Linked DNA regions of Homo sapiens: regions 2, 3 and 4 are each reported to be linked to region 1. The links are microRNA targets in miRTarBase. Many come from high-throughput screens and were not tested one by one. Region 1 holds a microRNA gene; each other region holds the end of a gene's coding sequence.
What was found. Region 1 holds the annotated microRNA hsa-miR-603 (CACACACUGCAAUUACUUUUGC, at 4,379-4,400, shown strand). A microRNA usually pairs through its seed, bases 2 to 8, with sites in the 3' UTR of a target mRNA and lowers its output. Matches are read on the target gene's strand: a 7mer-m8 pairs with bases 2 to 8, a 7mer-A1 pairs with bases 2 to 7 and ends in A, and an 8mer does both.

Region 1 (7,164 bases):
TCTTGATTGAGATTCCACATCATAAGTGCTAATTTCAGTTCTGACTATAACCAATTTGTTAGTTTATACTTACTCTTTACTAAAGGAAAGAAGAGTAGGAATAGGATGGTGCGGTGGCTCACACCTGTAATTCTAGCACTTTGGGAGGCCGAGGTGGGTAGATCACATGAACCCAGGAGTTCAAGACCAGCGTGGGCAACGTGGCAAAACCCCATCTCTGCAAAAAATTATAATAATTAGCCAGGCGTGGTGGCATGTACTTGTAGTCCCAGGTACTGGAGAGGCTGAGGTGGAAGGATCACCTGAGCCTGGGGAGGTTGAGGCTGCAGTGTGTCGAGATTGTGCCACTGCACTTCAGCCTGGGTGACAGAGTGAGACCCTGTCTTAAAAAAAAAAAAGAGTGAGAATAATGAAACTGTGCACACGCAGGCCTTTTAATAAACTTTCCCCCTGTACGCAGCCCATTCTAGCTATATATATTTCTTGGTCCCAGCCTCTTCAAATAAAAATTGTTTTATTCAAAAGTATGACCTAGCCTTATACAAGATAAGATAGCCCACTTAAAAGTGGCATAAAAGGCCACTTTTATGCATCTCCATTTTAGGTTGGTTACAAGAGGCACAGAGAGACCAAAGCCCATGGGATGCTCGTGAGAGTAGGAAATTGGGTGGGAAGGGTGGACTCGGGAGACAACCTGACATCTCTCTACTTGAAGCCTAGCAATAAGGTTCAAAGGTTCCTCATGCCTTGTTTTCCCTTCTCTCTACATGATTAAGATCCCATTCCTGTAACAGATAGCAATGTGTTTATGCAGTAAAATTAGATAAGGGAGATTACTAGGGAAGTCACTACTCAGTTAGGGATGTCAGTGGTGCTCACTGCAGGTCCAGGTTAGTAATAAGAACTCTGGACTAGTAGCTAGGAGTGCTTGAATCTAGATTAGTTCTACTTTCTAACTCGATGTGTGACATTTTTTCCACTTAATTTTTTTGGCCTTGGTTATCTTATTGGAAAAAATATTCAAGTTGCACAAATAACTAAATGATGCCTGAGTTTTCATTCAGTTCTAAAACTTCTCAACTGAGCAATCTGTTGTTGAAAGGAGAGTACGAGTTCTAAAAGCTACTCTAGGGAGCTCTGCATTCACCAAGCCGCTCCATCATTGTTGGGAAGAAAATACTAAGGTTGACTCATTGTCAAAGCCACATTCTACTCAAACTCAATGTACATAACTCGAATTCTAGCCACATTCCAGCCAAATTGAGATAGCTGTTCAAATAGTCATGGATTTATTTAATAACTGACTTCGAAATTCTTTACTTCTTTCAAGGTGGCATTAACAAGTATTTCGGAATTTCAACAGAGATCGGTTTTCACGTGCTCTTCAATGATCCCTGTGAAATAAATCATATTCAAGGGTTTTTTTCCCCTTATGAGTTATTCGCCTGAAGGAAGAATTCTTCATTTCTTTTTCTTTTAAATGCATGTTGGAATAAAGTCTTCTTTGAAAAGTCTTAATGAAAAGAGCAAACGTGGAATAGCATCCACCCCAGTTCTTTCTCTGGTCCTTGCACTCTGAGAATGAAGTCTTAGACAGCAGAATGTCAGGGGACTCTCATTGCGTAAAAGTCTGTGCCCTTCTGCGCCTTGGACAGTTATGGACAGAAGCCTTTAAGAAGAAGAAAATTAAAACTAGTTAATTTTTTAGTTAATTTTAGCAACACTACATATATGAGAGAGAGAAAAGATGGCATTTTCTGAATGAATGAGATGCCTCTGCATTTTGCCCAACTCATTGGAGACTCAGGATAGAGAAAAGGGAGAAATTATGTTTAGAGGCTGATAAATTTCCCTATGGTTACTATCAAGAGATCAGACTCTTATTAACATTTGCAAAGTGTGAGCAGAGAAGAGCATTTGAACAATAAGCATAGATTAAGTACTCCTCTTTCCTTCATTCCCTTTTCTCTAGTCATATTCTCAGACAGTCCAGGCTAAGTATTAATGATCTTCTTTGAAGTTAAACATACCCTTGCTACTTTCATTACATTATTATTTTTATGTTCTTCCTTTTGGAGTACTCAAGGTAAATGACATGGCAGAATCTGTCCCAGTCCAGTGAGGGTGTCACATAAGAGGCCCTTGGCTTACCTCTATGCATAACTGGCCCACGTCACATCTTTAATTAGAAGTCCAAGTTATTGGCTGGACGCCATGGCTCATGCCTGTAATCCAAGCACTTTGGGAGGCCAAGGTGGGTGGATCACCTGAGGTCAGGAGTTCGAGACCAGCCTGGCCAACATAGTGAAACCCTGTCTCTACTAAAAATGCAAATATCAGCCGGGTGTGGTGGCACATGCCTGTAATCACAGCTACTCGGGAGGCTTGAGGCTGGAGAATCGCCTGAGCACACGAGATGGAGGTTGCAGTGAGCCGAGATCGTGCCACTGTGTTCTAGCCTGGGCGACAGAACAAGACTCTGTCTCAAAAAAAAAAAAAAAGTCCAAGTTACTGTTGCAGGGATTGGGACATCTTGCCTTTCTCAAGTTGAGCAATATTCCCAAATATAAAAATGTAGGATCTTAGTCCAATCAGAGCAGATATTTGGTGTAGGGCATTTTCTAATGTAGTACCAATAAATTAGACGCATACCTCAACCAAAAAACAGCCCATATCCAGTAAGTAATAAGGCAATGATTTACATTTCACATATTACCAGAGTAATGACTAATAGCATACATGTATAAACTGAAAAGTGACTGATGCTTATTTTCAGATGGGTCCAAATTTATTGGATAATTATGGAGAATAATGTATGTTTTCTGAGAGTTGGTAGTAAGAAAATATTGCCATTGCTGGCCAGGCACAATGGCTCACACCTATAATCCCAGCATTTTGGGAGACTTGAGGTCAGGAGTTCATGACCAGCCACCTCAGCCTCCCAAGTAACTAGAACTACTGGTGCATGCCACCAAGTCCAGCTAATTTTTTTTTTTTTTTGAGACGGAATATTGCTCTGTCACCCAGATTGGCTGTGTTCTCCATTCTAAGTCCAGTGGTTAGAAATTGTCAAGTTCTCACATCTGCAAAAAAAGTAAAAAAGATGAACCTGCTACATCTAAATATACTTTGTTGTCTTCCTACAAGTCCTATTTTACATACTTATGGCATTTTTACTGCAGTTTGAAAATACAGTCAATTCTTGTTATTCACAGTATTGATGTTCTATAAACTTGCCCTAAATACTGCATTAGTGAGTCCTGAATTTATTAGTTAATACTGAATTTCCTAGGGGAAATACAGGGTTAGGTTCCTGTGAGTCTTTGGTTACCTTTTTATCAACCAATCAACAAAAATCCTTATTTTACCTGTGTTTTTGTTTGAAGACACCTTTTAAAATATATATTATTGATTCATTAGCATTGAACTAAGCTTATCTAATGCACTTATTTTTTGTGTAAGGTGTATCACAGCCTTCTTGAGCCTAGGAATGCCAAATAGTACTTCCACACCATACTTAAGGGCCATTTCATTTTATTTCTTATTTTTAAAATTTATTCTCTTTTCTTATTTAAAGAAAAAATTTGTAGATGCCGGGTCTCGCCCTCTTGACCAGGCTGGAGTGCAGTGACACAATCACAACTCACTGGAGCCTCAAACTCCTGGGCTCAAGTGATCTTCCCACCTCAGCCTCCCAAATATCTGGGACTACAGGCACACGCCACCATGCCCAGCTAATTTTTTAATTTTATTTTTTTGTAGAGGCAGGGTCTGGCTATGTTTTTGAGGTCTTAATTCCCCAATGAACATGACTAGTATATTCCAGGCTGGTCTTGAACTCCTGTCACAAAGCAATTCTCTTGCCTTAGCCTCCCAAAGTGCTGGGATTTCAGGCATGAGCCACTGCACCTGGCTTGGACCATTTTAAATAGTGAAGTCACTCACACACACATACACGCATGCAGGTGCACACACAGACACAAAAAGACACAAAAATGCGAAACTTGTGGCACTAAAAAGACTGTGGAAAGGGTGCTTCCTTACAGTATGAAAACTGAAACAAAAAAGCAGAGTGTTGTTTAGTTAGACGCCACCTGGGAACGTGCTTGTTGGGAAACTCCAGTTGTCCACTGTCCTGCCATGTCTATGATGACTGCAAACATTTGGGAGTATTAATTTGAGGGTCACAAACAGATTTTAGGTGATGGGCATATTTACAAATACAGAATCTGCTAGTAATGAGGACTGACTGTATAATGCTTTAGTAGTCTCAAGTATGTTTTTTTTCTCATTAAGCCTTTGCTTAAGATGCAGGCAAGATTGATGCTGTTGGTTTGGTGCAAAAGTAATTGCAGTGCTTCCCATTTAAAAGTAATGGCACACACTGCAATTACTTTTGCTCCAACTTAATACTTGGCTTTATTGACTTTTAGCATCAGTGCAGTTTGGTTAATGATAAAATTTTCCAAAGCAGTGTCTCATCTGCAGGAGCAAACTATAGCAAGGGCCCTGGCCATCAGTTCTCCCTTCTGGTCCTGATATTCCTTTTTAAACTGTCTTTCCATACCCCTCCCTCCAGTGGGCTTGGCGATGTTGCATTAAATAGCAAAGAGAAGGAAACTCCTCCCCAGTCCTCACTGACCATTTCTTTTTCCACTCAGTCCTGCTCAGAATGTAGAAGAGAAGTTGAATTTAATTCATAAATTCAGCAGCTTGAGGACTGTCAGTTTTGTCGTTATTTAGTGAAATAGTAATTGAATTGGGCTACAAGGTCATTGGAATCTGCTGTTTCATTTCATATCATTTTACGTGTTATTATTCTAATAAGAATACAAATGGAGTTTGATGCCATTTGCTGATCATCCATCTTATTGATGCCATTGAACAGAACGCAGAAACACAAAGGGATTTATAAGGCATTTCAGTTTTGATGTCCTTTGAAAAATGAAAGTCTTTTCAGAAATGCAAAAGACAAAATGACTTAGAATTCCATCTCGTTCTGCCCGGTTTGAGGGCATCCCTTCCTATTCCTTAGATAGCTGTTAATAAGAGTCCTGAGGAAAACTGGGTTTGAATTTAAAAACAAAAAATTTTTAAGAGACAGGGTCTCGCTTTGTCACCCAGGCTGGAGTGCAGTGGCACAATCATAGCCCCTGTAACCTTGAAGTCCTGGACTCAAGTGATGCTCCCACCTCAGCCTCCCTAGTAGCTGGAACTACTGGCACATGCCATCAAGTCCAGCTTTTTTTTTTTTTTTTTCTGAGATGGAATCTCACTTTGTCACCGAGGCCGTAGTGCAGTGGCGCGATCTCGGCTCACAGCAACCTCTGTCTCTCAAGTTCAAGTGATTGTCCTGCCTCAGCCTCCTGAGTAGCTGGGACTACAAGCATGTGCTACTACGCCCAGCTAATTTTTGTATTTTTAGTAGAGACAGGGTTTCACCATATTGGCCAGGCTGGTCTGGAACTCCTGACCTTGTGATCCGTCCGCCTCAGCCTCTCAAAGTGCTGGGATTACAGGCATGAGCCACCACACCCAGCCAAGTCCAGCTAATTAAAAAAAAAATAAAAATCGTAGAGATGGGGTCTCCCCGTGTTGCCCAAGCTGGTGTCAAATTCCTGACCTCAAGCAATCCTCCCACCTCGGCCTCCCAAAGCTCTATGATTATAGATGTGAGCTGCCATGCCTGGCCTTAAATTTTTCAAAAGCTTTTAAACCAATCTTAAAATGTTTTATCCTCTTAGAATCATGTCCCTAGTTTTATAGCTTGGAAATTCTTGCTCTTTTCAAATTGCTCTTTAACTCTGGCCTGATTGGAAGGTGGCAGCTTTTCAAATACAGGTCATGGCAGCGCTCAACCTGGATTCCTCAGTTGCAGAAGACTGCTTTTGCTAGACTGCTGAATTTACTTCCAACTTTTCAGATGTTTCTGAGGTTGACCCTGGTGTGGTTCCCACTCAAAGTGGAGCAAGCAGGTGGGTGGCAGGTCTCTTCTTAGCGGCTTCCTAGAGGGAAGCCTCGTGAGTGGGATGGGGGACAGGTTGCCCTGGGGGAGCCCAGGAATGGGGAGACAAGGCCACCTGCTATGCAGATGATATAGTTTGGCTGTGTACCCACCCACTTCTCATCTTGAATTGTAGTTCCCATAATCCCCACATGTTGTGGGAGGAACCTGGTGGGAGGTAATTGAATCATGGGGGCGGTTTTCCCCATGCTATTTTCATAATAGTGAGTGAGTTCTCATGAAAGCTGATGGTTTTATAAGGGGCTTTCCCTTTCACTGGGCACTCATTCTTCTCCTTGCTGCTGCCATGTGAAGAAGGACGTGTTTGCTTCCCCTTCAACCATGATTGTAAGTTTCCTGAGGCCTCCCCAGCCCTGCAGAACTGTGAGTCAATTAAACCTCTTTCCTTTATAAATTACCCAATCTCAGGTTTGTCCTAATCGCAGCATGAGAATGGCCTAATACAGTAGGTTTTCCTGAGTCCTCTCTCTGACTCACCCTCTGACGGGCAAAAGACAGTGGCAGCACTGCCAGCAATCAGCTGGGAACTTCTCCCCTGTGATAGAAAGCAGTGCTTGCTGGCTTCCCTTTGTGATGCTTTTGGACAGCAGCTCTATGGACCTATGCCTTTTGTCCTTTGAGGACGGACGCACAGTCTGTGCAGCTCGAGGACGCCGTCATGGGTGAGATGCTGTGGAGTGTGATGACGCCACCTCTTAGGCTGTGTGTGAAAGTAGCGAGGAGAGGCAGGGTCTGCATGAGCCACTTTGGAGCAGGCCAAAACACTGTGGAGAAGCACATTACAGCCACAGTGGCGGTGTAAAGGGTCAGACTGACCACTGGCTTCTGGAAAGTCTTCATTTCTGAAAGACTGTCAGGTAGAAGATGGATGAGAGTTACTCTGTGAGGCCGGAAACCTAGAACTCAGACCATTGTGTGCAGACCAGGGAGAGGCAGTGTTTGGAGTGAGATAAGCAGGAATTTTGAAATTACACAGACCCGGTTTTGAATTTACTCATGAGCTGTGTGGCTTAGAGAAAGCTGTTTAATCCCACTGACCTTCATCTGTGAAGTGTCCAAAAATAATACAGAGCTTGCAGAGTTGTGTGGATAAGGGATAATCTATCGAAAGCATGTGGCAAGTGGCAGACACAATGTGG
Region 2 (7,164 bases), not on the chromosome of region 1:
TTAGGACTCAGTAACTGTTATCTCTCTATACCATTTCCAGGCATTGTGCCAGGCTTTGCAGGATAAAAAGAAGTTAGAGACAGGGACTTTGGATCCAAGTCCTCCCTGACTCAAAACCCAGAGAGGCAGAGGATGCTTGCCACCTTTGACTAGTCCTATCTCCTCCAAAGGGTCCTTTTGATTTATTAGCAAGAAGCCATCTTCTGACCACAAAGACAAGATTTCAAAGTTCTCACCCAGTTCCTAGCTAAAGATGTCCAAAGAGACTTCTAAGCCAATGATTTTCAACAAGGAAATTGAAGTTGTATGCTTTGAAGAGAGGGGCTTGATTGGGTGGCATCTTATGCTTAAGTGTGCATGGAAGAGCCATCCTACATGCAGCATGTGATGGGCCCCCAGGGACTGAGGACTTGTGTATGACTGGGAGTCTACGCAGCTTGGCTTCATATCAGTTCTTGCCATCTCGGATCCAAATGCTCTCCAGGCATGAAGTCATTTCCTCCAAGAGATTTGAAGATGCCCCAGAAGAATCTTAGGCTAAGGTCACTATTCTTAAGCTAAGGTCACTATTCTTATTCCTCTGAGAAAGGTGAAAGGTGGGTTGGGTGCAGTGGCTCACGCCTGTAATCCCAGCACTTTAGGAGGTCGAGGTGGGTGGATCACGAGGTCAAGAGATCGAGACCATCCTGGCCAACACGGTGAAACCCTGCCTCTACTAAAAATACAAAACTTAGCTGGGCATGGTGGCACGTGCCTGTAGTCCCAGCTACTTGGGAGGCTGAGGCAGGAGTCGCTTGAACCCAGGAGGCTGAGGTTGCAGTGAGCTGAGATCGCACCACTGCGCTCCAGCCTGGTAACAGAGTGAGACTCCACCTCAACAACAACAACAACAAAAAGGTGAAAGGTGTTTGATGGATGAAAATAGAGCTGAACCCTAACTTGTAACCACTCAATTTTAACTAGAGGTTGTCACCAAGTAAGAGATGCCCATCGACCTTGTGCACAAAGCTGGCGCTAGTCTATGAACTGTTGGTGAAGTCACACTATGAAACAACGTCTCTACCACCCATTCCCATACCATCAGCCATCCTGCTCTGGCATATGAGCAGGGGAATTCTTTTCCGTCCTCTCTGAAGGAACGAATAGTCTGAAATATTGAATTGGAAAAATGCTCAAGGCATCCATTCTACTCTCGTGGGCCCCATGTAGTTATCTGTTGAAGGCCTCGGATGTGCCAGAGACAATTCATTTGTTGTCATTAGTTCCCCCCACAACCCTCAGAAGTGAGTATACCTTCATGTCACAGATGAGATTATGTTCAAAACGGTTTAGAAGCTGCTCAAGGTCACATACCCACTAGGTGACAGATTTGAATCCAGAATTGTACTCCTCAACACAGAGCCCCCTTCTCACTATGCCGGAGATGCTGAGTTTCTTGGCCTGGGCTGCAGCCCCACACAGCCGGTTTTGAGCTCCCCAGGTGAATCTACTGGGCTCCCTGGGCTGAGAACCACTGCTCTACATCAGCCTTCTTACATGAATCAGGGGTTTTATTCCGCCTTGCATCACAGGTTCCTTTAGGGAAGTAAAAAAAAAAAAAAAAAAAAAAAAAGCTACAAGTCTTCTCTACAGCAAAATAAATGTTTATACATAAAAAGTTGCATACAATTTCAGATAATTATGGCATCTCTGAAGCCTCTGCGTGGATCCCCCAAGGGTCATGAACTTGAATTAAGAGCCAAGTCTATAAATCCTTGACACCAATTACTTGGCTGCAGATGGAAGTTGGCTGGGATCAGTTTAAAAATTCAGATTTCTGGGCCCCATCCAAGAACTACTGATTCAGAATCTCTGGATTTATACTCCTAGATGTTGCTGAATTATTCTTTATATATTAGAGAACAAGACAGTCTGTGGACTGGCTTTTGGGAACCACCCCTCTAAATAATGCCCACTCCAGGGATCAGAATTCATCTCAGCCACTTTTACCTCTGTAACATTAGGTAAGCTACGTGACTCTCCTAACTTTCCATTTTGTCTTCTGTAAATGGGGATAATAATTGTCCCTACCTCATAGAGCTAATATGGAATAAAATATTCCATCTAAGTGTTTAGCACAGTGTCTGGCACATAACTACCCAATAAATGTTAATTTATTACTAATTATATAGTATTATCATTTTATTATCTAGGTAATAATCTCTACAAATGGTCTCTTTGCTACCGAGGTGGGAACAGAATACCATTGCTAGCCAACTGTTAATAAAAATACATGAAAGAAAGGAAAAAATTCAAAGTTTATTCAACATTAAGAATAACAGACAGATAAAGGTTTGGACTTAACAGCATAAATACCACCAATATCATGGTGTACAATTAAACTAACCTCATGTCAACTTGTACCTGTTTAACAGATGCGATCTTTGTGGTGTTGCCAAAAGGATAATGGATTATTGTTATGTTTGGTAAGGTGCTCAAAATTAAAGACTTTATGTCGACTTATTCACACACATACACACACACACACATGCACGCACACACACACACACACACTCTTACACTTAGCCTCCTGCAAAATGTATTGACTTTAGTTGCTATATCCGATTCGGATAAGGCTTTGCTCATTTTTTAAATGACATTATTAATTGCAGAAAAAACGTGGAGGAGACCTTGGCCTTGCCAGTGGGGGTACCTAGGAGCAGAAGGTGATCGCCACCTGGAGGGCAGATCACTTAGTCTCAGACACCTGCAGGGTGCTGAGACCCCAGTGCTAAATCCAGATCTCCAATTGCCATCACACATAGGCAAGCAGGCCTGGTCCCATGCCTTGGGATCGCTCTAATTGACTGTGATAAAGATTGAGTTTTCCTTAAAGGAAGAATAGGGTAAAATGAGATAAACTACTAGAAAAACCAAAGAATAGCTTTGCATTTCACAGAATGTCTATTGTTTTACACTGGGGGCAGTGGGGAGGGTGCCACTGATAATTCTTGCTTCTTCCGAAAACAGACCCTAGACATCTGATTGTACATTTGGAATTACTGTGAGTTCCCCACCAAACCAGTGGGTTAGAAGGAACCTCTGGGTGGTCTAGTACAGGTTTCCATTCCACCCACCCCACTGTGGAATCCCATCTGTACTCTCCTCAAAGGGTCCTTCTGCTTTGAGGGATGGGTCAGTGGAGGCCTGTTGTATTTGAAGACAAAAGGCCTATCACAGTCTTGCCTAATGTGGTATTTGAATGGTTCAAAGTGGCCACTTCCTGAAGAGAAAGAAGTAATGATCTACAGCCCTCCCCTCAACAAACTACCTCCTTAAGGCAGCACCAGCAGAAAGATAGGCTGGTCAATTTTTGCCTTTCTTTGCCAAGTCTAGTTAAAAGAAACAACAATGTGACCTCATCAGGAGGTCCTAAGCTGTTCCTTCCAAATCATGTCTAGATGATGTCAGTATGATATGATTTGGATTCATTGTTAATGGCCAAATAATTAATCTCTGAAAGATGCTTAGGATGAAAAGGTGAAAAATGACAAAGGGACTCTCATAATAGCTGCAGCGTGCAGACATGCGTCTGACTCCGGTTGACCCAAATCACTCAGAGTCAAGCCATGGCCTCCCGCTCCATGAAGCAGATCTGCCTTGTTTGCTAGTTAACTGCCCTGGATGGAGAGGCAGCCAGTCCAGAGGGAGTGTTCGTGTGTGTGTATCGTGACAATGACCTACATATAAGGCACCTGTACAGACTCCAAAGTGTTTAAATTTGTAAGACGAGGTAGGTTTCTGAAACCTCTCCTGGCACACAAGAGAATACATTTTATTAGAATCTTTTTATTTTTTTCTGCAGAAAACATTTGAGATGCTCATTTGATATAAACATCTAATTCCAAGAGAGACCAGTGCTCAAATATAGTTTTTTCAGCTACCATTTGATACGGCCATAAATTTGGATGGTCCATGTTACAATCCTTCCACAATTCTCCACTTAAAGACATCATTTTTCTATGTTTTTAATGACTATTGCCATCTAACAATTCTACAATTCGCCTCTTTGCCTGTAAAAAGGCCAACTCTACGTCCACCTGTGTCTCATATTGCTATCTTTTATTTATCTCTGCTTAAGATTGCAAAAGTTTTTGATTTTATTATTCACCTGAACAATGTATTGCAATTCCAATACACCCCCATCTCTTGCTGTTATCTACAGCTTGTGACAAAATGAACACCTTGTAGAAATATCCTACTGGTTGGGTTTCCCAAGTCTATGACACTATGAGAGAAGCATTGCTGATGGATTGACGAGGAGACCACCAGATCATTAAAGGATTAGATACTCTGAAGGCAGGAAACTAGAAAATCCCATTGATGAAAGGATATTTTAATCTAGCGTAAAATGTTTCTTTGTCGTAACAGCAGAATTTCTTGACATTTTACAACTTAATGAAACAAAAGAACAATCATCTTTAAAGTCAAACATCTATCAAATTATAAACCAAACACATAGCACCGATATCAACCTCATAAAACGTGCGGGCCCGCAGGGTAGAAAAGAACTGTCTGGGGCACTGGCAGCAACGTGCCATTCCAGGAACTCAGAATTTCGAAGTGAACATTTTTGTGGCAGATGCTTTTCCTAAAAAACACTGTATCATCCAATAAATATTTGACTAAAATCCATTTTGTGCTTTTGGGTGACGTTAACTGACTTCTTTCTGAGGCCTAATAAGAAACAAGAAAGCTCCTTGTGTATTTTAGAGCAGGATTCGTCATCACAAGCCTCGATACTGTCATAAAATTTTAATTTAAAGCAGAAAACATGCTGATGTGTCAGTGATAGGGCTTAAAATATTAAAGACTTCAAAAACCCCCAAGCACTTCTTCTCTGTACAACATTGGTGAATATATATCTTTGCTATATAATTTTAAAACATGGAATAGTTTTCCTCTCCTCTTTTCTATATATAATATATGTCTTCCAAAATACATTGTCAGTATTTATATCTGAAAAATACTGTACAAAAAAGAACTTCCTATAATTACTCTGTATAAACATTAAACGATTTAATAATCTCTCCTTTTGGTCTATAGTAAACATTTAAATTGATTGGATTAACCACAGTTTGTGACAACACCATCCCCTTCTGAGATACACCAGTGTCTTTTACATTCATTTTTCAGAAGTCCACTTTATAAGAGCACATACGTTCAAAAGCAAACAGAGAATAAGAAACATAAGCTTCAGAATCATTAATTTATGAGGCATTCAAAAATGACACCACTAGGAAAAAGGGCCTTAGAAAACATCAACTTATTAACTTAATCAACTGATTTTCTTTTTAAAAACAACAAAGTATAATTCACAAAAATATATATATTACCAAAAAGTGGGAAAACTGAATCTTAAGTAACTGTTTTGAATGTCAAGAGGGATATGGAAAAAGTTAACTAGAAAAGTGGGGGCGAGGCAGGGTGTGAGGGAAGGGGAACAACAAAACCGAACACATCAATGTCAAAGGCTAATCCAAGACGCAGTTTTTGGCTCATGTACTGATAAATTAACCCCTCATCCTTAGACCTCCCATTTCCCTCTGCTTCCTTGTCCTAGGGAATAGTCTGGCCATGCTCAAATGCATTACTTTACTTTTTGTTTTTTAAAAGACAGTGAAATTCTTAGGTAGGGAAAATATCCTACGTCCACTAGTAATACTCAGGCAGCATGCTCTAGCGTACAATAGGATTATTGCTTTAGGTACAGACAGTGCAAAAACACACTCTGTGTTCTATTAATAGTACTCTTACTTATCTGGGGTTGGTAGAATTAAAAGGAAACTTAGTAGATAGCAGTAAGTAAATATGGGATCTAATAAATCTAAACAGCACTTTAATTTGAAGACGATTATCACCAAAACTGAAAGTAAGAGGAAAGCAACTTATAAAGGACTAGAGCTGCGGAGTAGTGCTAAGTTATTGTGTGCACCTCATTAGCATGGTAACTTACGGACTAAACAGAAACAAGAGCTTGTACTCTTAAAAACTGAGATCCACTATTTTACCAGGGCCCTTTTTAGTGAATCCAAGCAGAGAGTCCTGGAAGAGTAGGTAAGCTCGAACATGAAGCAAAGCTGAGGAGGCAGGAGTGAAGGAGGGAGGGGATGGGAGACCCGCGAGAGGGCTCCTCAGTCTAGTAAAGACATGGCACCTTTCTTTGTTGGAACTAAAAGACGATGAGAGGGCTACCTTAAAATGGCAAGAGCAAAGGAACACGCACACGCACATACCGCTGACCACACACATGAGCACAAGCACATATACACGCACACACACACAGATGCACACCAAAATGGGAGTCAGTTGTGTTTATGCCTCTGGTAAAGTGCTGATGTCAGAAAGGTTGGTTTGCGTGTGGTGCTATCAGACAGGAAACAAACTGTCCATCTATTCCAAAGCCAGCCTGCAAAAATGCCATCCTACAGGGGCCCGTGCCTGGCCTCATACTTGGCAAGTATGTTCTTGCATTTGCCCAGCTCCTTCCTCAAGTCAGCCACCTCCTGGCGGAGGGCCGAGTTCTCCTTCTCCAGGAACGAGGCCCGGATGGCGATCTGGTTCTCTTTCAGCCTCCGGGCGTCGCGGGAGCGCTTGGCTGCCATGTTGTTCTTTCTGCGCCTTGCCCAGTACTTGTCATCCTGCTCATTAGTTACAGAAGGGAAAAAGAAACAAGATATTAGATTTCAGCAAAGCCCAGTGCCAGCCAGGGCACGGGCAGGCTCCAGGATTGTGCAGAGGTGCCAGCCCGGGTTTCTTAGCTTGTGTCTCCTTCCTTTACAGTTTCTGCATGTCTGAGAGTGTGGCCCATGAGCCACACTTCCTTCTTGGAGCAAGGACCCACCGATCTGTCCCAACAGGCTCCTACTCTTTGCCCAGCAGAGGCGTGCTCAGTGAAGCAGAGATCAGAGGCTGGATGAAAGCAGGTGGCTCACCTCACCCTTAAATTACATTTCAACTTTCTTTACTCTCCCTGCTCAACATTTTAAGAACCCTTTTCCTTCAAGGGCACTCATATGCTTTTTTGGGTATGAGTTGGTACAAAAATTTTAGAAGGCAATTTGGCAATATCTATCAACTATTTAAATGGATATACTATTCATCTAGCACTCCACTTCCAGGATT
Region 3 (7,000 bases), not on the chromosome of region 1:
GGGGAGTGACCCTGGGAGTGTGAGTGGGAAATCTGTGGTGGGGCCGGGACCAAGTCCCTTCCAGCATCCCACATCTACTTTCTACTCACTTGAGCTCCGACCACCCTCTCCCCACAGACCCCGGTGCTGCTGACACCCAGCTCGCTGCCTCCTAGCATTCACTTCTGGAGCACCCTGAGTCCCATTGCGCCCCGTAGCCCGGCCAAGCTCTCCTTCCAGGTAGGATCCTCTTTCCCCGTTTTGGACAGGGTGAGAGACCCAAGAATGGCCCCCATCTGTGACCTCTCCCTCTTTTTGCCCCCAGTTTCCATCCAGTGGCAGCGCCCAGGTGCACATCCCTTCTATCAGCGTGGATGGCCTCTCGACCCCCGTGGTGCTCTCCCCAGGGCCCCAGAAGCCATGACTACTACCACCACCACCACCACCCCTTCTGGGGTCACTCCATCCATGCTCTCTCCAGCCAGCCATCTCAAGGAGAAACATAGTTCAACTGAAAGACTCATGCTCTGATTGTGGTGGGGTGGGGATCCTTGGGAAGAATTACTCCCAAGAGTAACTCTCATTATCTCCTCCACAGAAAACACACAGCTTCCACAACTTCTCTGTTTTCTGTCAGTCCCCCAGTGGCCGCCCTTACACGTCTCCTACTTCAATGGTAGGGGCGGTTTATTTATTTATTTTTTGAAGGCCACTGGGAGGAGCCTGACCTAACCTTTTAGGGTGGTTAGGACATCTCCCCCACCTCCCCACTTTTTTCCCCAAGACAAGACAATCGAGGTCTGGCTTGAGAACGACCTTTCTTTCTTTATTTCTCAGCCTGCCCTTGGGGAGATGAGGGAGCCCTGTCTGCGTTTTTGGATGTGAGTAGAAGAGTTAGTTTGTTTTGTTTTATTATTCCTGGCCATACTCAGGGGTCCAGGAAGAATTTGTACCATTTAATGGGTTGGGAGTCTTGGCCAAGGAAGAATCACACCCTTGGAATAGAAATTTCCACCTCCCCAACCTTTCTCTCAGACAGCTTATCCTTTTCAACCAACTTTTTGGCCAGGGAGGAATGTCCCTTTTGTTCTTCCCCCTGAGAAGCCATTCCTTTGTCTGCCAACCTCCCTGGGGTCCTGCCTGTTTCCTCCCAATGGAGGGTTTTTTTGGGGGGTGGTCCCCGTCTGGGGGGCCCCTCCAGCCAGTACTCCAGGTCTCCCTGTCTCTCCCCCGCTGCCATTTTGATAGTATAATCTATTTTTAAATGGGGCTTTTCAATAGGGGAGAGGGAGTCATCTCTTCCTATATTTGGTGGGGTGGGTGGGAAGGAAGGGATTTGGGGGGGAATCTTCCTGCCGCCTCCCCCACTCCAAGTGTTTATTTTTGATACCAAACATGAATTTTCAGTTCCCTCCCTCCCAGCCCCCCAATTTCCTGCGGGCGGGTACAAAGGACCCTTTCAATGTCCCTGGAGTTGGGAGGGAGGAATGGGGGACATAAAGCCTGTCCTGTCTCTATTCTAGGCAAGAGAGAGTGGGTTCAAAAGACTCCTGGGCTCACCTGTTAGCGCTGGCCCAGCCCAGGCCTTGGGACCTGGGGGTTGGTGATTTGGGGGACAGTGCTACACTCGTCTCCACTGTTTGTTTTACTTCCCCAAAATGGACCTTTTTTTTTTCTAAAGAGTCCCAGAGAATGGGGAATTGTTCCTGTAAATATATATTTTTCAAAGTGATGCTGGAGGCTGCTGGCACTTTTTCTCTGATGTTGTCAGGACTAGCTGAGCGTGACACGCATGACTGTGTGTGGAGGGTGTGAGGCAGAGGTCGATTGTGAGAGAAACGGTGTGATGGCGTGTGTGAGAAACAATAGTAGGGACTGCATATCGGTAACCATGTGTGTGTCAGAGACGTGGAAAGCTGTGATTGTGTGTGAGAGTGTGCAGAAGTTGTGACCACAGACTTTTGATGGTGTGTCTATGTGGGAAATTGTGGCTGTGTTTCAGAAAATAACTGAGCCTGGATGAATAGTCAAGGTACTGTACAAGAACCTGTGATGGTATGCACAAAATAATGTCTACGAGAAGGGAACGGGGACTGCAGCCCTGTCACTGTTTGATGGCGAGCAAGACAGACTGGGTGACCAAAACCACATGTGAGAGACTACGTGGGCATGAAACTACAGTAGAGGTTGTCAGGGATTGTGGCAAAGATTGTGTAGGTGACAAACCTCACTGTAGGCGACTCAACGTTTGAGAAATAGATGATGTGCAAAACTGTTTACTTGAGGCTGTAGTGTCAGCTAAAGCTGTAAGACTGTATGGGTGCGAACTTGATTGTACGGGAGAGAATGGCTGGGAGACCAAACCAGTGACCGAGACCAAAGATACAAGAAGGTGCAATTGTGTGTACGAAAGCAGGCGTGAGAGACTGCAGCAAAGACTGAGAAAAACGAATGGCTGTGACTGGGAGAGTGTGACAGGCTGTGTGTGTGTGTGTGTACACCTGAAACTAGTTGCAAATCGATTTACCATTACTACCACAGTCTATCCCACAGGTTCAGGGACTGTGAGAAAGTAGGAGAGAAAATGACGGTGAGCCGGACGGAGCCACTGACATGGTGTGAGAGACCACATCACTGGGCATGCAAGGGAGAGGGACAAGGAACTGTTTATGAGAGACTTGGCAGTAGCAGTAACTGGAAGTCAGAAACTGTGGGAGAGGAACTTGACAACTGAGTGATGTCAGAGCACCAGGGGGTCTGTGAAACAGTTCATAAGAAACCATAAATCAGGGGCCATACAAAAGAGCTGAGCAAATGAGACATGCCAAGTGACCACGTGACAGTGTGTGAGAAACTTGTAAAGCTGTGCACGTGTGTCCGTGATGAGCTGACCATATGAAGAAAATGACGGTGTGCACGACTGAGAGGGCATGGGTGACTGTGGGTGACTTATCGAGGGCCTAGTGGTGATTGTGAAATACTGACCGAGTATATCAGAAGCTGACTGAGGGACAGTGATGACTGAGACAGTGGCTGAGAAACGGATTGTGTGTCCATGGGTAAACCCTTTGCAAGAGACTTTATGAAAGGCTGTAAATCAAGGACTGAGGGTACTGGAAGCTGATTGAGAAGAAACGTGAGACTAGGTGACGACAGTGTCTGAGATACTGTGTGATTGTGTATGCGTGTGAATGTCTTTGTGGGAGAGGCTGTAATCAGGGATCGTGGGTGTGTGAAAAAGTGGCTTGAGTGAGAAAGGGGTAGGAGAGGTGATTTTTGTGCATGTGTGGGAAACTTCATGAGAGACTAGTTAGTGGTGACTATAAATCAGTGACTATTTGTGTATGTGAGAAAGTAACAGGCCAAATGAGTGCCTAAACGTTTCATGAGATTGTGTGACTGCACGTGTATGTAAGGAACTGACTGGTGAGAGAAACTATTGGCAATATTGACTGAATGAGACAGGCTGTTAAACATGATTGTGTGTGTGAAACTGTTAGGAGACTGTAGTAAGGCTGGAATCCATGACACAGAAAATGACTATGAGTGACAGAATGTCTGAGAGGCTGTGTGATTAAGAGAATATAGTAGAGGCTGTAAATCCGGACTGGGTGCGGTGGCTCATGCTTGTAATCCCAGCACTTTGGGAGGCCAAGGTGGGAGGATCACTTGAGGCCAGGAGCTTGAGACCAGCCTGGGCCACATGGTGAGACCCCGTCACTACTAAAAATTTAAAAAATTAGCATAACGTAGTGTTGTGCACCTGTAATCCCAGCTACATGGGAGGCTGATGTGGGAGGACTACTTGAGGCCAGGATTTTGAGTTTGAGACCAACCTGGGCAACATAGAAGGACCCTGCCGCTACCAAAACAAAAAACAAAATTACCCAGGTATAGTGGTGCATGCCTGTAGTCCCAGCTACTGAGGACACTGAGTTGGGAGGATCGCTTCAGCCCAGGAGTTTGAGTTTGAGACCAGCCTGGGCAATGTGGCAAAACCCTGTCTCTCCAAATAGTTTAAAAAATTAGCCAGGTGTGGCGTGTGCCTGTAGTCCCAGTTACTCGGGAGGCTGAGGTGGGAGGATGGTTTGAGCCCAGGAGGTTGAGGCTGTAGTCTGCGATCACGCCACTGCACTCCAGCCTGGGTAACAGAACCAGACCCTGTCTCGAAAAGAAAAGAAAGAAAAGAAAAACATAACTGTGTAGATAGGTTTAAAAAAAAAAAGAGAGAGAGAGAAAATAACAGACCAAATGAGACTGTGTGAGAGGTCTAATGCCCTGCAGACCCTCGAATGTTCCAGGCCCTGGAGAAAAACCCTCTTCTGTTTTTCCTGTTCCTCCACAGGCCCCTCCTGCTCAGTCCGCTGGGCTGGCTTCTCCTACTTCTCTAAAACTTGAAATGCTGGGGTTCCCCAGGGCAAAGCCCTGGGATTCCCTTCTCTCTTCTCACGCATCCTCTCTAGGTCATCTTATCCAGGTCTTCACACTTGAAATACTACTTATCCTCCATGGGATGCCCACATTTTTACCTCTAACTCAGACTGTCCTTCTGGCATTTTATCGTAATCTCTAAAGTTTTGTTTATTTCATTGATTGATTCATTTAGCAGATGTTTATTGAGCATCCACTGTTTCCTGGTGCCTATCTAATGCCCTGCAGACCCAGCAGTTAACAAGCCAGACAAAAATCCCTGCCCTTGTGGAACTGATATTTAGGGAGTGAGAATAACAAGAAGCAGGCAAATACATAGTAGCAGGTAGGGATGTAATAATTAAATAAGACAAGACTCTCACTCTTTGTTTAAGGAATCTGCAGTCATTTTATTGCCTAAACGTGTGGGAAAAGATAGAGTGCTGACAGTCCTCTTCCACAGGGAATCCTATGAGTATTTATACAGTTTAGAAACAAAGGAAATATTGTTAATATTATTACCAGGGCAACAGGTGGTTAAATAAAGAAGCCAGCCAGAATTTCAGGTTTCTTTCTTTTTTTTTTTTTTTTTTTTTGGGACAGAGTCTCACTCTGTCGCCCAGGCTGGAGTGCAGTGGCACGATCTCAGCTCACTAGAGCCTCTGCCTCCCGAGTTCAAGCGATTCTCCTGCCTCAGCCTCCCAAGTAGCTGGGATTACAGGCATCCGCCACCACGCCTGGCTAATTTTTGTATTTTTAGTAGAGACGGCGTTTCACCATGTTGACCAGGCTGGTCTCGAACTCCTGACGTCAGGTGATCCACCTGCCTCAATCTCCCAAAGTGTTGGGATTACAGGCGTGAGCCACCATGCCTGGCCAGTTTCAGGTCTCTTGGAGAGTGTTTTCACAGGATAACACAGCAATGATTGTCTTGAAGTCGTAGAATCTTAATAAGACTCCTTTGTTCAAAGCACATTTTCAAGGATAGCCTTATGTTATCAGAGAACAGAGTATGTCTGTAATGGATACAGATATTAACACATACTTTACTGCCCATAAAACAAGTGTTCCTGAAGAACTTCTGTTTTAACAGCTGACCAAATTATTACATTTGAATTTGCAGAATTCCTCTGCCTCCCTGAGAGCAGAGGAAATTAGGCATTGCCTTCCTATCTTTCTTGTGCTTCTTTTTGTTAATTAAAAGCAAAATAAAAATTTTAAAGTGGGCCCTGGAGTTTCATTAGGGTTTATAAAAAAAAAATAAAAAAATAAAAAAAAAAGAAGGGCTGGTGTGATGGCTCATGCCTGTAATCCCAGCACTTTGGGAGGCTGAGGTTGGGAGAAAATATTGAAGCCAGGAGTTTGAGACCAGCCTGGGCAACACAACGAGACCCCATCTATACAGAAAATAAAAACATTAGTTGTGTGGTGGTGTGTGCCTGTAGTCCCAGCTACTTGGGGACGCTAAGGTGGGAAAATCACTTGAGCCCAGGAGTTTGAGGCTGCAATGAGCTATGATCAGACCACTGCACTCCAGCCCAGGTGACAGCAAGACTCTGTCTCTTTAAAACAAAACAAACAAAAAAACAGGTTTGGAAGCTACTGGGCTAGAGAGTGACAGGGATGCCAGACAAGGGTATGGGGAAGGCCTCTGTGAGGAGGGGCAACATTTGTTATCCATCTTCTCGAGGGCCAGGATTTTTGTCTGTCCTATTCTCTGCTCTAATGCTAAGAACCGCATCTGGCATCCAGTAGGTGCTCAATAAATGTTGAATAAATTTATCAAACACAGAGCACCTACTATATGCCAGGCACTGTTCTAAAGACTTTCCAAAAGCTTAACTCCTGGCCGGGCACGGTGACTCACGCCTGTAATCCTAGCACTTTGGGAGGCCAAGGCAGGTGGATAACCTGAGGTCAGGAGTTCGAGACCAGCCTGGCCAACATGGTGAAACCCTGTCTCCACTAAAAATACAAAAATTAGCTGGACATGGTGGTACACGGCTGTAATCCCAGCTACTCAGGAGGCTGAGGCAGGAGAATTGGTTGAAATCGGGAGGCAGAGGTTGCAGTGAGCCGAGATCGTGACACTGCACGCCAGCCTGGGCGACGGAGTGAGACTCCATCTCGACAAAACAAACAAAAGCTTAACTCGCAATCTTTGCAACACACCCTACCTATGTTGTAGGTGCTGTCTGTGAGCACATTTTACAGAGGGGAAACAGGCTCCAGAAGGGGGGTGTTATCTGCCTGAGGGTTCTCTGATGGAATATGGCCCAGCTTATTCCCTCCTAATCACCCCAGACCCTGGTGTTGTCCCCAGCTGGGCCCATGGAACAATGGATAGACCCCATTCCCCTCCTGAATCCCTCCCCAGGCTCCTGCCACTTCCCTTTCTCACTTCCCTTGTGCTGACCTCCCCGACCACAAGCTGACCACAGGGAACCTCTCAGGAAAGGAGGGCCGAGGTTAAGGGAGGGTGGAAGGTGGAGCAACTGACTCGATGCTCCCTCCACCCCCACGAGCAGGAACATACTGAGCACCGCACACTCACTTCACCCTGGTTCAACACCCCCACGAGGTTGACCCCGTCATTATGTTAGAGATTATG
Region 4 (7,164 bases), not on the chromosome of region 1:
ATTGCACCACTGCACTCCAGCCTGGGTAACAAAGCAAGACTCTGTCTCAAAAAAAAAAAAAAAAAAAAAAGAAGAAAAATATAGCTTATTTAAAAAAAGTCTATCTAGTAGTATTCTCAAAACCAACATCTGGTGGCTAGGAATTGTCTATGTATTATTTTCCTTTGTGTGACAAGATGCTGTTGCTACGAGTGTTGCCAGACACGTGATCCACTGTTCTATCAAAACAGTGGAAATAAGACCATCCTTGCTGCTTCAGCTGCTGAATCATAGAAGTTGCTGGAGTGGCCAGACAATGCTTTGTTTTGCTTTGTCATGTATAGCTGTGCCTGAGTATGTGTCATGATGTCTCACAGTGACCTGCATTTGACCCACGCTCAGCATTTCCTCAGTGAATTGTTGTGACTCTGTGATATTTGTCTTCACATCATTGATTTCAGTTTGCAATCAATATCAGTAGTACTTATGAGGCTCCATGGTCAATATTTGGGTACATGGACACAGGTAGCCTCATGGCTCTTCTAATAGTCTTTTCTAGGGCAGGATTTACTGAATCAAAGCTGTTTTCACATTTTACTGTATAATGGTTTTACGTCATCATTCAGAACAAACACAGTGAAATGTCTATTGAGGGCCAGGTGCTATTAAAGCTGTTGTTAAATTCTCTCTTCTCAATCAGCAATCATATTTTAAGGAAGTAAAAGCCTTGGAGAAAAATATCCCATGGCTGATGTGTGATGATCTGGCTGGTATCTGGGTAAGATCGTTGACCTGACACAGGACCTAGTTAGTTGGATAGGATGAGTGGCCACCCATAAAGAAAAACGGAGGGCAAAAGCCACTCCACTGTGCAGAGAAATTGGGACACTCCACTCCAGGGAACCTGGCCACCCCAAGGCTGCTGTTTCCAAGCCAGCAGCACACCCACTGCAGTGGGGAATCCATCTTCACAGCACACTGTGACAGCAAACGGGGCATTGGGCTGAGAAAGCAGCCTTTGACTTCCTCCCAGAGTGGCTCTGCCTGCCAGTCCTGCACCCCACAATGACCTGCATATAAAAAGCATGAGACTGCAGTTCATGTCATAGGTCCCAAGAATTCTTTACATGTCTCTCCCAGCCCTCCACTTTTTTTTTTTTCTGAGACAGTTTCATTCTGTTGCCCAGGCTGGAGTGCAGTGGTGCGATCTCGGCTCACTGCAACCTCTGCCTCCTGGGTTCAAGCGATTCTTGTGCCTCACCCTCCCAAGGAGCTGCGTGCGCCATCACACCCAACTAATTTTTGTATTATTGGTAGAGATGGGGTTTTCCCATGTTGGCCAGGCTGGTCTCAAACTCCTGACCTGAAGTGATCTGCCCACCTTGGCCTCCCATAGTGCTGGGATTACAGGCGTGAGCCACTGTGCCTGGCTTCCACCTTCCACTTTACTTTGGAATTCAAGGAAAGGTAAGGTAAGGGTAAGGCTTGAGTCTCAGGAATCCAGCTTTGGGGACATAAGGCGGAAAAACCTCCTAAGAATAACTAAGGGTCATTTTCACCAGTATTACACCTTTGGAACCATTGTTACATTTCACCCTGACTTCTTTTGGCCAGAATATACCTTTGAAACTCATTTTTAAAGATTTTCCTGGACATCTGGAGCTTCAAAACTTGGCCAGTTTTGCTACATTTCACATGTTAAAGGCTTCCATTTACTTTCTCTTTAGGAAGTCATGCCTGATGGCATCTATTTATAGGCTATTTGACTGTTTCTTGCTCTTATGGTCTTATTCAATGGTCCTCAAACTTCAGCACGCATCAGAATCACCTAGAGGGCTTGTTACAACATAGACTGTTGGGTCCAGCCCGAGTTTGATTCAGTAGGTCTTGGCTAGCGTCCAAAAGCTTGCATTTTTATCAAGCTTCCAGGTTATGGCAATGCTGTTGGTGTAGAGACCACATTTTGAGAATCACTGATGCTACAGAAAGAGAAAAAAAAAAATCTTATGGTGGTCTGGTATACTGTGCTGCATGAAAAGTCCTATGACAGCTATTCTCTAATGGCAAACTAATTTCCCTCTAAGCTCCTTCTTTCCACCAGGTGTGTGCCTTCCATCCACATATGCTGGTCTGTTCTTCAATCATTATATAAGGGGACTCTATTCCCTTTAAAATGTATTTAACCAGATTTAAACTTTCTTTACAGACCCCAATTCTTTTTTTCAGAGTGGGTCTCGCTTTGTCGCCTAGACTGGAGTGCAGTGGCACAAACACAGCTCACTCACTGTAGCCTCAAACCTCTCAGTCTCAAGCAATCCTCCCACCTCAGCCTCCCAAGTAGCTGGGTCTACAGGCACTTGCCACCATACCCAGCTAATTGTTTTTTAATTTTTTGTAGAGACTCAGTCTCCCTCTGTTGCCCAGGTTGGTCTCGAACTCCTGGGCTCAAGTGATCTTCCTTGCCTCAGCCTCCCAAAGTGCTGGGATTACAGGCGTGAGCCACTGCGCCGGTCCTAGATTCCAATTCTTAAAATGAGAACTTAAAAAAATTTCTGTAATCACTTCCACCTAAAGCCGTACATGGTCCCCATTTATACTTCAGTCAACAATGTGAAAGTTCTAAAATACAGCTTTTGCTGTAACTTAGTATCTGCACATATATATTTTTTTTCTATCACTAAAAGTAAACTGCAATAGTCTTCTGGTGCTAACAAGATTACAACACAATCAAACTGATTTTGTATTTAATTTTGTTCAGTTTTAAGGTTCAAAGTGATCACTCATCCTGAAAATTACACTCTAAAAAAGTGCTCGTAGTTGAGTTTGGGAAATGCAGATCTCCAAGAAATGTGGAGCAACTTAGATGAGCAATGAAAGGATCAGAGGTTTAACCACGACTCCATTTTCTTCAAGCCCCCTGAAGATCCTGACGATCTGGGATGTGCTGGCTACACCCTGCTCCCCGTCAACCAGGAGCGTTACTGAAGTTACAGTAAAACAATGTCAGGAGACTGACACAAAAGCAAATCCTTTCAAAGACTGGTAAGGTTTATTTCAATTAAATCTTTATGTTTTATTTTCCCTCCACTCATTTTTTTCTAGAAGTGGGATAAGATTAACTAAATGTTTGAGTCAATCAAGCTTCTGGTATAGTTGTAGAGATGACTACAAAAGGAAGGTGATAATAACTGAGAAAAATGCTGCTGACACATTAGCTGTAGCACAATTCAAGTTTATTCCATTTGTTCTTGCAACACAAAACTTAAAACACAGTATTATTTAGCATTCGGATGTACATGAACTAGGATACTTATGAGAAACCCAACTGCGTCAAAAGTATGACATTGTGGAAAAAATGAACTCAAATATATCAAAATGCACAAAGCACTAGTCTTCCTCCATTACCGCTTAGAAAGATATGATTGTTTCTCCATTTACAAAATAGAATCAGGACAATTTAAATTTTTTATATTTTGCATGCAAAACACTGCAATTGCTTATTTATGTAGGAGGGCACTCTCACCAGCTTCTTCTATACACAATTGAGTATACAATATTGCATGGAAGAAAACAGCAGCTCAACTGAAATATTAGAAAAAAAAATCAAACAGATACATACAGATTTAAAATCCAGTACTTGGGAAAAGATATCAATGAATAAAAGGCCTACTTGTTTGCAGCTTCCACACACTGCACCTACCTACTACCTCTCTTCCATGCTTAACTGGGTTTAGAAAGGTGAGCTATGCGTAGAAGAACTACTTGGGATATTCAAGTGCTGTATTTGAACGATAAGCCTATAGATAACAGTCTGAAGCTGCAAGGGAGACTTTGTTAGTACACTACTATAAACAGGTAAACTACCTGTTTGTACTTGATATAGTGCATATGAAATGACTGATTTAATACAAAACTACAGAACATGCAAAATTTTTTCTGAGATGTTAAGTATTACTTCAGTGGAGAACAAAACTTACTTAACCTTTCGCTAATGCATGTAGTACCAGAAAGCAAACATGGTTTTAGCTTCCTTTACTCAAAATATGAACATTAAGTGTTGTGAATTTGTCTGCCAAGTGGTTCAGAAATACATTATAAATAACCTAGTTAAAAAAAGAAACTGTGAACCATCTTGGTCAGTCTATTCTATTCTATGTTTATATGTTATTTTCTCAAGCAATCGCTTCATAATTATAGGGTTTACAAAAAGGTCGAGAAAGAAAAGCGAAGGCGAAATAGCCTCTACTGCATTACAAGCAACATCAGGATAAACTGTACAAAGAATCACATGGTTTCCATACCATGAATGTAGAAAGCAGACCAGGTTTAGGAATGATAGGACAATGCACTCTCTGCAATAGCCAACTACAACAAAACACTTTGAAAGTAAAGGTGAAAATTATATAAAGGGAAAAATTCAAGCCTTTAAATAGCATTATGTCAAGAGGTGAAAACAAAGGTATCAAAACACCCTGTTGCACTACGTTGATAGTTATAGACTGATAGAGTGCCCTCCATTTTCAATGAGGATGTCTCCATATTTTAGTTCAGTGATGTAATAAAGTACTGATTACTGATTTTTAACCCAACTCTTAATAGGCTGCATTAAGACAGCAAAATTAGCCAAATACAACAAAGTATTTAAACCACTACTTTGTGATTGTTTTCTTGGATGTAGGAAAATTACAGGGTTAGGCTAGTTGTAAGTGAAAAAGCCACAGGATTAAAAAAAGGACTCATGGGGAAAAATACACACACACACCCACACACACCTATACACCCACACACCCACATGCCAACCAACCAACCAACCAGCAACTGATCAGTAAAACTTGTTATTAACCAGGGTGACTGTTCTTGATAATAGATTAACCCTGCTGTAGAATGCTATGTTGCCTTTAAAAACCAATTCAATTATTATCCACAATCTGAGTATCAGTCCCTAACCCACCCTCCCCTAAAAATTTGAGGTACATTCAATTATTGCATGACTTGGTCTTAATATTTTTAGCAAGCTTATATGGATGGCAAGTCAAAGGAATCTTAATATTTTAAATGTAAGATATAAAATTTAAGCTTATATATTTTAATTAGCTGTACTGCTCATGAAATAAATATTTGGAAATATGTGTAAATATTTTCTGCAGGTCATAAGAACACCATTTTAGGGCACTGTATTCCAAGAACAGAGAATACATTTTGAAGTTGTCACACTTTATGTAATGCATGATTTATAAAAGCAACAAAAATATATTATGCAGGTGGGTTGGCATATGTTCAGCAGAAGCCTATCAACAACTCTGGGAAACCTGGTTACAAGTGTATTTTTGAAGGGATGGGGCTAAATTTGTCCAAACAGTAAATCTCACCCCAGTGATAGCTTTGGTGCAGTAAGTAATCAGCCTCCAAGATGGGTCTGAGAGAGGCATTTCAAAGAATGTTCCTTAATTCTCAACACATAACCAAGGTCAATCCATTCAAACAGCAAATAAAGAAAATCCATAGGTACTAAGATAACTGTTCTCTCTTCATATGATACTAACAGGCTTATGGCTATGATTCTATTTTTAAATCCCCTTTTACTACCAGCAGGAGTTTGAAAGTGTTTCAATGCTATATAAATGTATGAATCTAGAGGAGAAAAAAATATGCATACTGGAATGGTTTCTCCTTTAGACTTCCAAAACTTAAGATTTTATAAATAAAACTAGTCAGTTTTATCTAAAGAGACATGAAATCCATGTGAAAGGGGAGAGAAAATCCAAAGTTCAGTCATCCAGCAATTTAGGAGTGTGCCCCTCCTCACCTTAACTAAGCTTTCACATAAAGCTTAAAGTCACCGAGGAAAGATTTGGTCACCAACCTTATAGGCAGCGCTCTTAACTATGCCAGGAAATCCCCAGTAGAGTGCATTCTTAAGGCAGAAGGCTAGAGCTAATTGCTTATCTCAGCACCCTAAGTTTACATCACAGCAGCCACTACTGCTCAGACAGTTAGGGCTACCAAATATGTAGAGTTGGCCTTTGTAGAATCAGACCTTCAACACAATCTAATAAATTAGCTAGGGAGCTGAAAAGGTCAAATGTTACTGGTGTATTTTGTCTTTGCTCTCCCTTGGGTATAAGGTGTATATTTTATTAGAAAGGGAAGAGGCTTACTTGATCAGGAATCCCAGTAAAAGCCTGATCATGGTTCCTTTTGCCCCTCCTCCAAAACAATTTTTTTTTTCTGGTAGTCGGATTTGTTATGAATTTCTCTCTCCCCTCACCCCTCTTAAAGTATTTAGCTGAAGAAGCTGGCAGATAGAGAGTGACAGACAGACAGGCAGCAGTGTGAGGCCACAGGAGAGTCATTCTTCCGGAGTTATCAGTCCATCCATCCATCACTGGAGAAGAGCTTTGATTGCCTGGTTGTCAGTGGCTTCAAAGGCGGTCAGTCCATCTGGGCCTTTCACAGTCTTATCAGCACCCTGGAAAAGAGAGGAAAGGGCTCATTAAATGAGCCCACAACTGGGGGAAGGGAATGTAAGACTAGCTCACATGGCACAGGTTAATGTTTACATCAAGAATTAAAAATTCCTTTACTAGTGGAGTCTATTCTACTGCAGAAAAACAAACAAGTTGGCAACATTATGGATTAATTATAAAAATGCCACATTATTTTTCAGGCACTAAGAATTGTAACCCAGGCAATCACTGGCTTTTATTTATACTATCATGGATGAGATGATTAGGAAGAGCACGTTGAGCAAGTTAGATATATTTATCTAATTAGGCTTTAAAAATAATATCCCTATGTGCAGTATGAAACGGGGAAAAAGTAAATCACTTTGCTAAAGTATTCCTGTGACAAATTATTTTTTTCTTATTTGAAACACTTTTTGTAGAGTGCATTCAGTATTATATACATCAAGAACAAATACTGTATTCGTCATTTTACTTGTAAAAACTTCGCAGTAAATGCCTGAGATGCGGACTATAAGAAGGTTCCCTGCGATATTGTAGGGAAATATTCAGTGCAGACACCAGACTGCTCTGAACGCTTAACTTGGAGAGTGCTGCCTTGGAACATTTTATCTGCAACGCGGCATTCTGGTTTTGAGAGTGTGTATGTGCCCTTTTGTGCCTGTATGTTGTTTCATCTGTCTACCCTTTCTGGATGAAAGCTCCATGGGAGCAGTAATTC

Region 2: miRTarBase lists HLF as a target of hsa-miR-603. Seed matches in the 3' UTR shown: 7mer-m8 at 5,764-5,770, 7mer-m8 at 2,548-2,554 and 7mer-A1 at 2,513-2,519.
Region 3: the mRNA of ELK1 is a reported target of hsa-miR-603. The part of its 3' UTR that is shown has no 7-base or 8-base seed match.
Region 4: the mRNA of MTPN is a reported target of hsa-miR-603. Seed matches in the 3' UTR shown: 7mer-A1 at 4,729-4,735 and 7mer-m8 at 3,665-3,671.

What each region holds. Positions count from the first base shown.
Region 1 is chr10:24,271,367-24,278,530 of GRCh38, forward strand. It overlaps MIR603 (microRNA 603), which reads left to right and starts at 4,319; the gene lies at 4,319-4,415. All of the region lies in intron 2 of KIAA1217, which reads left to right.
Region 2 is chr17:55,320,180-55,327,343 of GRCh38, reverse strand. It overlaps HLF (HLF transcription factor, PAR bZIP family member), which reads right to left. Exons shown (of 4, transcript NM_002126.5): 4 at 2,157-6,680. The coding sequence ends at 6,465. Among named protein-coding and RNA genes, the nearest start is that of HLF, 59 kb to the right of the region's middle. RefSeq lists an enhancer at 6,166-6,666.
Region 3 is chrX:47,630,232-47,637,231 of GRCh38, reverse strand. It overlaps ELK1 (ETS transcription factor ELK1), which reads left to right. Exons shown (of 7, transcript NM_001114123.3): 6 at 118-219; 7 at 305-1,711. The coding sequence ends at 403. It also overlaps a transcript of CFP not described here. Among named protein-coding and RNA genes, the nearest start is that of CFP, 3.8 kb to the right of the region's middle.
Region 4 is chr7:135,923,565-135,930,728 of GRCh38, forward strand. MTPN (myotrophin) reads right to left here. Exons shown (of 4, transcript NM_145808.4): 4 at 3,196-6,448. The coding sequence ends at 6,362. Among named protein-coding and RNA genes, the nearest start is that of MTPN, 50 kb to the right of the region's middle.